Homo sapiens: one gene and its partner. The protein of the gene in region 1 purifies or fractionates together with the protein of each later gene. This does not show direct contact. Each region holds a gene or a part of one and is shown on either strand. Other genes may lie near its edges.

The links. Proteins that work in one complex are often made in the same cells at the same time.
Region 2: the proteins of CD48 (region 1) and ZNG1C purify together in Homo sapiens (affinity purification with mass spectrometry; one large-scale study listed by BioGRID and IntAct). This does not show direct contact.

The regions. Positions count from the first base shown.
Region 1 is NC_000001.11:160,680,632-160,684,481, forward strand, and holds part of CD48 (CD48 antigen isoform 1 precursor), read right to left. Parts: exon of another isoform or gene 2,575-3,850; intron 838-2,574; coding exon 571-837; coding exon of another isoform or gene 464-570; exon of another isoform or gene 1-463. UniProt on the Homo sapiens protein: Glycosylphosphatidylinositol (GPI)-anchored cell surface glycoprotein that interacts via its N-terminal immunoglobulin domain with cell surface receptors including CD244/2B4 or CD2 to regulate immune cell function and activation.
Region 2 is NC_000009.12:68,255,199-68,259,048, reverse strand, and holds part of ZNG1C (zinc-regulated GTPase metalloprotein activator 1C), read right to left. Parts: intron 2,129-3,850; coding exon 2,069-2,128; intron 518-2,068; coding exon 480-517; intron 1-479.

The sequences.
Region 1 (3,850 bases):
GGAATCTGGCTTCCTAAGTTCATCTAGGAACATCAGGCTGGGGAGGAGAAGCTTCGCCTGAGGCTCAGGCTCTCACGCCTCCTCGACGGCCTCTCTCAGGCCCGTCTCCTCAGTCCCTCTTTCCCTGGCTGACTTTGGCGGTCTAATGACCTCGGTCCCTCTTTCCTTGGCTGACTTCGGCTGTCTAATGAAGCCCCTCTAGACAGCTGCTCGCCCACTTGCCCTTCCTTCTCCCTGCTCACCCTGATGTTTCAGTCTACTCTATGATGACCCTGGCCTCAGATGTTAGGACTATGCTTTGTTAGAGCGGGAGAGGGAAGAGGAGTATCAGAGATCTCTCCCAAACGTCCTTTGCAGGTGAGAACACTGAGCCCCCACGAAGTTGAGGTAAGCTGGCTGGGAGGTGGTGGTAGAGCTGGTGGCAGAACCCACGTCTCCCAGCTCTCCCAGACACCTTAGGGATTCACCACCACACTGTGCAAGGAGGCTGAATAGGACCCCCAGCCTTTCTTTGTTCAAAACAACTCCAGTTACCCTGTGCCCCCCTCAGCTCCCAGGGATCCTTCTTACCCAGGGTACAGGGTGGACTGAGGCAGACCGTGCCATTCTTGCTGCTCACAGAATTGCTGACTTGGCAAGTATAACACCTGGAGTAATTATGTGGCATAAGGGTGGTTTCAAGCACACTGTTCTGGAGCTCCTTTGGGAAGGGCCTTTTGTCCCCATACCAGGTGTAGTTTACAGACTCGCCAGGTATCACACATGACAGTTTCAGATAACAGTTGTCATCCATGTCTTCTATCTTCTCAATTTTGATGACAGGCTTGGGTACAGGGTCTGAAAGTGAGGAGGATGTTATAAGATGAGACAGTGAGGCATTCATGCTGTGAAGGTTTAGCCAACAAAGAACAAAGGGATCCAGGGAAGGGGCCTGAATGCCCCAGGAGGCAGAGTCATGAAGAAGAAGTTCTACAGAGGGAGCCAGTGAGCAGCCTTGACCTCCTGAGGCCTCACAGACTCACTGCAAGAGCGGCTTCTAGGCAGTGAAGCTAAGCTGCGTCCTGGAGGGGGCGCCACAGTCCATCATATGCTCTGGGAACAAAATGGGGTTATGATCGTGTGTGAGCCTGAACGAACAGCCCAGAGACTTGCTGGGGTCAGACTTAGTATATCAACTGCCTGAGATGCTCAGGGACCCTTCTCTAGCAACGGTTCATGGCGGGCACCTTGGCTGGTCTGTCTTTCCAATTATCGGATTCAGCTTCAGCAAGAGTCCTAAGGTAAGAGGTACCTGTCTGCGCGTGGCAAAGTCCTTTGCACAACCATCCAGTGCAGGTGCCAGCCTTCTAGACTCTGGCAGAGCTACAGAGAAGAACTTCATGTAACTTCCAGCCGCATCAATTGTGATAAACAGATTGGTCTGCTAACTTTGGTATCTCCATGTCTAGCACAATCCCTGCCACATGGCAGGTATTCTATAAGTATCTCATGAAAGGATGAATGAAGTAGTTATGAGATAGAAAGGATAAAACACAGCCGGGTGCAGCGGCTCACACCTGTAATCTCAGCAATTTGGGAGGCTGAGGCAGGAGGATTGCTTGCAGCCAGGAGTTAAGAGACCAGCCTGGGCAACATTGAGAGACTCAGTTTCTAAAAAAAAAAAAGAAAGAAAAGAAAAGAAAAGTAGCCAGGTGTGGTGGTGTGCACTTTTAGTCCCTGCTACTCAGGAGGCTGAGGTAGGAGGATTGCTGGAGCCCAGGAGTTCCAGGGTGCAATAAACTATGATTATACCACTGCACTCCAGCTTGGGTAAGGAGAAGACCTTCAAAAAAAAAAAAAAAAGAAGAAAGAAAGGAAGAAAGAGAGAGAGAAGGGAAGAGAAGAGAGGAAAAAGAAAAAGAAGGGAGGGAGGGAGGGAGGGAGGCAAGTAGACACAAAAACACTAGTTTTGGAGTGAGACCAGCCTGGGTCCTGGACTTGACTCTAGTGGAGTGACATTAGGCAAGGTAGTTAACCCCCTTGCTGTCATCTGTAAACTGACTCTACCTCATCGCGCAATGTTAGTAAGATAAAACGTCACCTGTCATGGATAATTGCTTTTTGAAGAGTGTAAGTATTGCATACATTCTAGAGGCCATTTTACCATTATTACTGTTGTACTGCTGCCGGAGAGAATGAGAGATAGTCCCAGCATCTGGTCCTTCCTTGGCTAAGGCCGGTTTACCTGCAATCCTCTGAGATCTTTTCATTCTGGTCAGGGTGAAACATCTGCAGAATCAATGCAACTCAAATCCCATAAGATTAAAAATTGGCAGAGAATTGACCAGATCAGAGCTTGCCTCTTGGTTGTATGTGTGGAGAGGCTCTAGAAGCTCTACCAATCTGGTCTCTAGAACTCTAGTTTTGTCTCCTCTGTGAAGCTGATCTCAGATCGCTAAAAGATTGCTCAGACTACAGAGGTGATAAAAGTTTCCTGGACTTCCCCTATATGTTTTAATTGAGCAATTTTTATCCTGGTTTTCACCATTTCCTGTGTTCTAGCCTCATATCTTACACTCCTTCTGCATTTCCCATGGTGATCAGCACAGCACTGGGCACTTTGCTGATGGAATTAATTGAGCCAGCTTGGGTTGTCCAGCTCCAAGATGCTCGCTTTGAGCTGTCAGAAATGCTTGGGCTGGACCAGAGGACCATTTTTTCTGCTAATCACTTCCTGGAAATCTTACCCTCAGGCAGGATGTGCTGAAGCCCAAGCCAGTTTGTGGATTTTTAAGTACTCAGAAATTTTGCAAGCTTTTTGTGAAACCATTAGTTTATTGAAATCAACTGTGGTAGCAGTATTTAAACCACAGAAATTACAAAGTTGGTAAATGCTACGCTTTAGGGCTTTTTTTTTTTTTTTTAAATCTTGTAGAGCTTGTTAACCAGAACACCACTGTAAGAGACCTTGAATCTTTTTGTTCCCAGGACTTTCTGAATTTTCAGCCCATATGACATGGAAGAAGAGTTAGAAGGGGAATCTGACTGCTTGGATCAGGGACTGTCTGGCTGGTGGAACTTGAATGTATACAACACTCTTCATTTGCATGTTTTGACATTTTAAAAAATGTTTTCACTTTCCTTATCTACTTTGACTCTAATAACATCCTGAAAGGTAAGTAGAATTATTCTCATAATATGATGAAGAACCCAAGGCTCTCAAGGGAACACCACTCTTGGATTATTTAGCCCCGCTCTTCTACAAGAATTGCATACCCCAACCCCTGGAGCCCCTCCCCATATCCATGTTTCTGCCCTATAATCTGATCCTTTCACCAAAAATGTTTAGATCAGGTACACACACCTGAACTAAATTGGGACTATCAGTTTCTCTCTCTTTAAATTGCCCTGAGAATTGAAACTCAGAGGAGCAAAAGTCTAAGTTTTGAGAGATAACATGTGTAAAATGGCAGGAATCCAAATCCATAGGCACAGTCCACAGATTCCTGAAGCTAGGGGTTCTGGCCCGAACCTGGTTTTCAATCTTCTCCCCTTAAGCCCTTCCTAGCTCTTTTAAACTCTTTGAATTGCTTTAAATAGCCCTAGTTTCTTAAACTAAATTCTCCTTTTTTGGTAAAGGTACATTGAATTAGTTTCTGTTATTTGCTATCAAAAGAATCTTACCTAATATGGGCACAGAGATGTGAAGATCTTTTTTCAAGGCTGCACAGCTAGTGAGCAACTGACCAGTTTTGAACCCAAGTCTGTCTGGCTCCAGGTATAATGCCTGAGTCCTTATTCCATATACACTGGTTAGACTGGAGCTATGAGTGGAAGTTTTTTTGTCCTGCCCATTATGAAAGTTGAAAAA
Region 2 (3,850 bases), on another chromosome or scaffold:
TGTTACATAGGTAAACGGGTGCCATGGTGGTTTCCTGCACCTATTAACCCATCACCTAGGTCTTCAATATTTTTTAAAAACTCATTTCCAGTGTGTGTTTAATAGTAATTTAACAAGAAAAATAAGATCTCAGATGCTTTATCAAGCTCAGCTTCTTCTATGGAACAGAAAAACTTAGCAATATTGGGGTTGAATCCTTGTGAAGAGCTATACATACCAAACTCTATCCTAACCCCATATGCTTATTACAAATTATAATTCCAAATTTTATCACCAAATCAAACTCAGAGTAATAGAAAAGAAATATTTAACACAAACTAATAATTAAAACACAAATTTCACCTATTGTTCAGGATATCTTTTTGAGAAAGGTTTTTGTTAAAGAAAATTTCAGATACAAACATAAAGAAAATTAAACAATCAATCCCCATATTCCCAGCTCTCAATAATGAGCCACTCATAGCAATCTTTCAACTTACTTTTAATCCATATTTTGAATCCACAATAGTTATGATACCTACAAAGGAAAAAACATTTTAATCACTTTTTAAAAAGAATGCTTATTAATACTTGTGCAACCATACTTCAGAATGAAAATTAAAACTAACCTATTTCAGTTCACAAATACTACTCAATAAAACAATGTACTGTTTTTTTCTCTTGCCAGTGCTGCCATTTAATTAAATTCCAGTAATAAGTCAATGCATTTCCTGAGTGGCTAGCACTATTTTAAGGCACTAGAGAAGATATAAAACAAATAAAAATTTTAAATTAAATAAATAAGAAAATAAGATTTCCTTGGCACTGAAAAAGCTTACAATCCAAAATATAAGTCAAATTTCATAACATAGTCAAATGTGATAAGTACATAAGACAGGTTATTTCTAGTTTATTTTCACATAATCAAAATCAAGACTTTTCTTAAGATTTAAATTATTGCCTAAAGAATGAGACATCTTAAGGTATCATTCCTAACATCTCTCACCAAATCCAAATCCAAATCCAGCTCATAAATGTTTTACATAACATATGCCTAAGTTTCCAAACTACCAATTCATTTTGCAATCTCTGAATATATGCTGATAACAAAAGAATGAGTTTAATTATGCTAAGGAATTCAACCAGTTACCCGCCACATATATTAGAGCTCAATGATGGGGCCCAGCTTAATAATTCTTAAATTTCTTAATGATTATTACTTTTGAAAAAGTAAGAAAATTTCGACTGGTTTTTAAAAAGGTGAAAAAGGGAAAGAGAAAGGGAGAAAACATAGTCGCTTAACTAAGAAAGTTTCTAATATATTTTAAATGAAGGCATATCATTGCCCAAAAGTGTTCAGGTAAATAAAGTAAGGGAGGAGTGTTTAATTCTTATCTTCAAGAGAAAATAAAAGCAAAAATATGATCCTCATATTGCCTGGAGGATTAAAATAAAAGGCTCTAACATTATATTAAGGGCATAAATCAAACAACAGAGGATACAGAAAACCTACAAAGCATTTTTTTTTTTAAAGAAAACCTTAGTGGAAGCACTAAATTGGAAGTTGAGTGACATCGATTTCCACCACTGTTTGGGGTTTTTTAATCTATATGAACAAAGATTTCATCATTAAACTAAAGTGTGAAAAGAACAACAATGCAAGGAATTAAAGTTATAATATGAATGAACAACAATAAGCTTAACCATAAAGATTTTACTAAAAAACAAAAGAGGCAGGGTGTGGTGGCTCACGCCTGTAATCCCAGCACTTTGGGAGGCCGAGGCTGGCGGATCACCTGAAGTCAGGGGTTCAAGACCAGTCAGGCCAACATGGCGAAACCCCGTCTCTACTAAAAATCCAAAAATTAGCCAGGTACGATGGTGCACGCCTGTAGTCCCAGCTACTCGGGAGGCTGAGGCAGGAGAATCACTTGAACCCAGGAGGTAAAGATTGCAGTGAGCCGAGATCATGCCACTGCACTCCATGCACTCCAGTCTGGGCAACAAAGTGAGACTCTGTCTCAGAAAAAAAAAAAAAAAACAAAAAAAAAAACCAAGAAAGATAAAAGAAAACTGTTTTTTAACTTACCATCAAGGTAAATATCACTCCCTAATTCAGCATCAACCCAAAACATAGAAGCCACTGCACCTGAAAATATATAATATTCATCAAATAAAAATATTTCTTCACACTGAGAAACATGATTCTATCCATGTTTTAATTTGCCCTGATAAAATTAACAGGTAAACACATATATCTTCTTATGGAAATTATAGTGATAGAAGCTTTAACTATTTATAGCAAAAGGGAATTATAGTGATAGAACCTTTTACTATTTATACCCATTCCATTTCCATCTCTCGTTATTTCCTTTAAAAAAGACCAATTCTAACCACATATAAACAAAACATCATTCTTCTACCGATGCCATAATAATTTAATTAACAGATATTATCAAACAATTTGAGCAGTATGGCTTTGTGCACATCAGACTTATTTTTATTTTCTCACCTCTTTAATATGATAATCATTCAATCATAAATAGTGAATTATCACTCTAAAGGAAAAGGAAAACAAAACATAGATAATTCCAAAATCACTTGCCCAAAAAAAATTTACTTGTAATCTGTGTAGAACTAGAAGTAAAATTATATACTCTATGGCATTACTAATTATTCCTCACACTATTTATTTAGGACTGTATAAAACCTGGGTCTTAGGAAAAATTTTTCCTAAATAATAAATTAAAACTTGCTTTTGACAGAAATTGGTTCAGTACCAAACCACATACCCTGATTAGTATGCCACAACGCAAGAAAAAGAAAACTGACAGCAAGGAAAGTATTTGATTTTTGAAAGCATCACAGGCCCAGTTAGTGACAGGGCTGTCTAAAAGAATGAGTGTAGGAGAAAAACAAGGATAATCAAACTCATTCCAACGTCTAAAGCTGTCCACCTGCTCTGACAAGATGTGGTCCCCCAAGCATCACTCTGTGTCAACAATGAAATACCGGTCAGCTGTTTACAGTGATTACTCATGCAAGATATAGCAAGGGCCACAAGATCTAATGGTTTCCTGATACCTATTGATTTTTTTCCCAAAAACGTAATAGTTTTCCAATTTGACTCAAATAGGATTTGTGAGTAACAGGGGCTGAATCAATGTCCGTTCTTTTCAAGGAAATTACTTTACCATGACAATTATTTAACTTAGAACTGGAGAGTGTCAGTCTCCAAAATGGGAAACAACTGAATTGCCAATAAGAATTCTGTTCACTTTCTTGGCTAAAACATGATTTTAATTAATGAGGGGGAAAATTAAATCTACTGTATCACTACTCCAAACAATAAGTCATTTAAAAAAGCATGAATTTTTTCACTCAGTAAAATATCTAACATACATAAATCATTTTGTAATTTTTAAAAATTCATTGATTTTTAGTCTAATAAATAGTTTACAAATCCTACTGTTAATATTTGCCTCTTAAGTTGAAATGTAAGAGTATATTAATGCTTTATTCTAAAACTGGTATTTATCTTTGATATAATACTTGCCAGACTACATGAGAAAGATCTATTTAAAATTTGGATGTAGGTATTTAGGAGGAGTAAAGATGAATGAACAAAATTGATTAGTGGCTCTCAAACCAGGGTGCTTTTCTCCCCAGGGAATATTTGGCAATGTCTGAAGATGTTTTTGGTTGTCTTAACTAGGGGAATGCTACTGGCATCTAGTGGGTAGAAGCCAGGGATGTTGTTAAATATCCTACTCTGCACAGGGCAACCCCCTCACAACAAATAATTATCCAACCCAAAATGTTATTTGTGCTGACACTGAGAAAACCTGAACTACATTTTAGAATCTCCCTT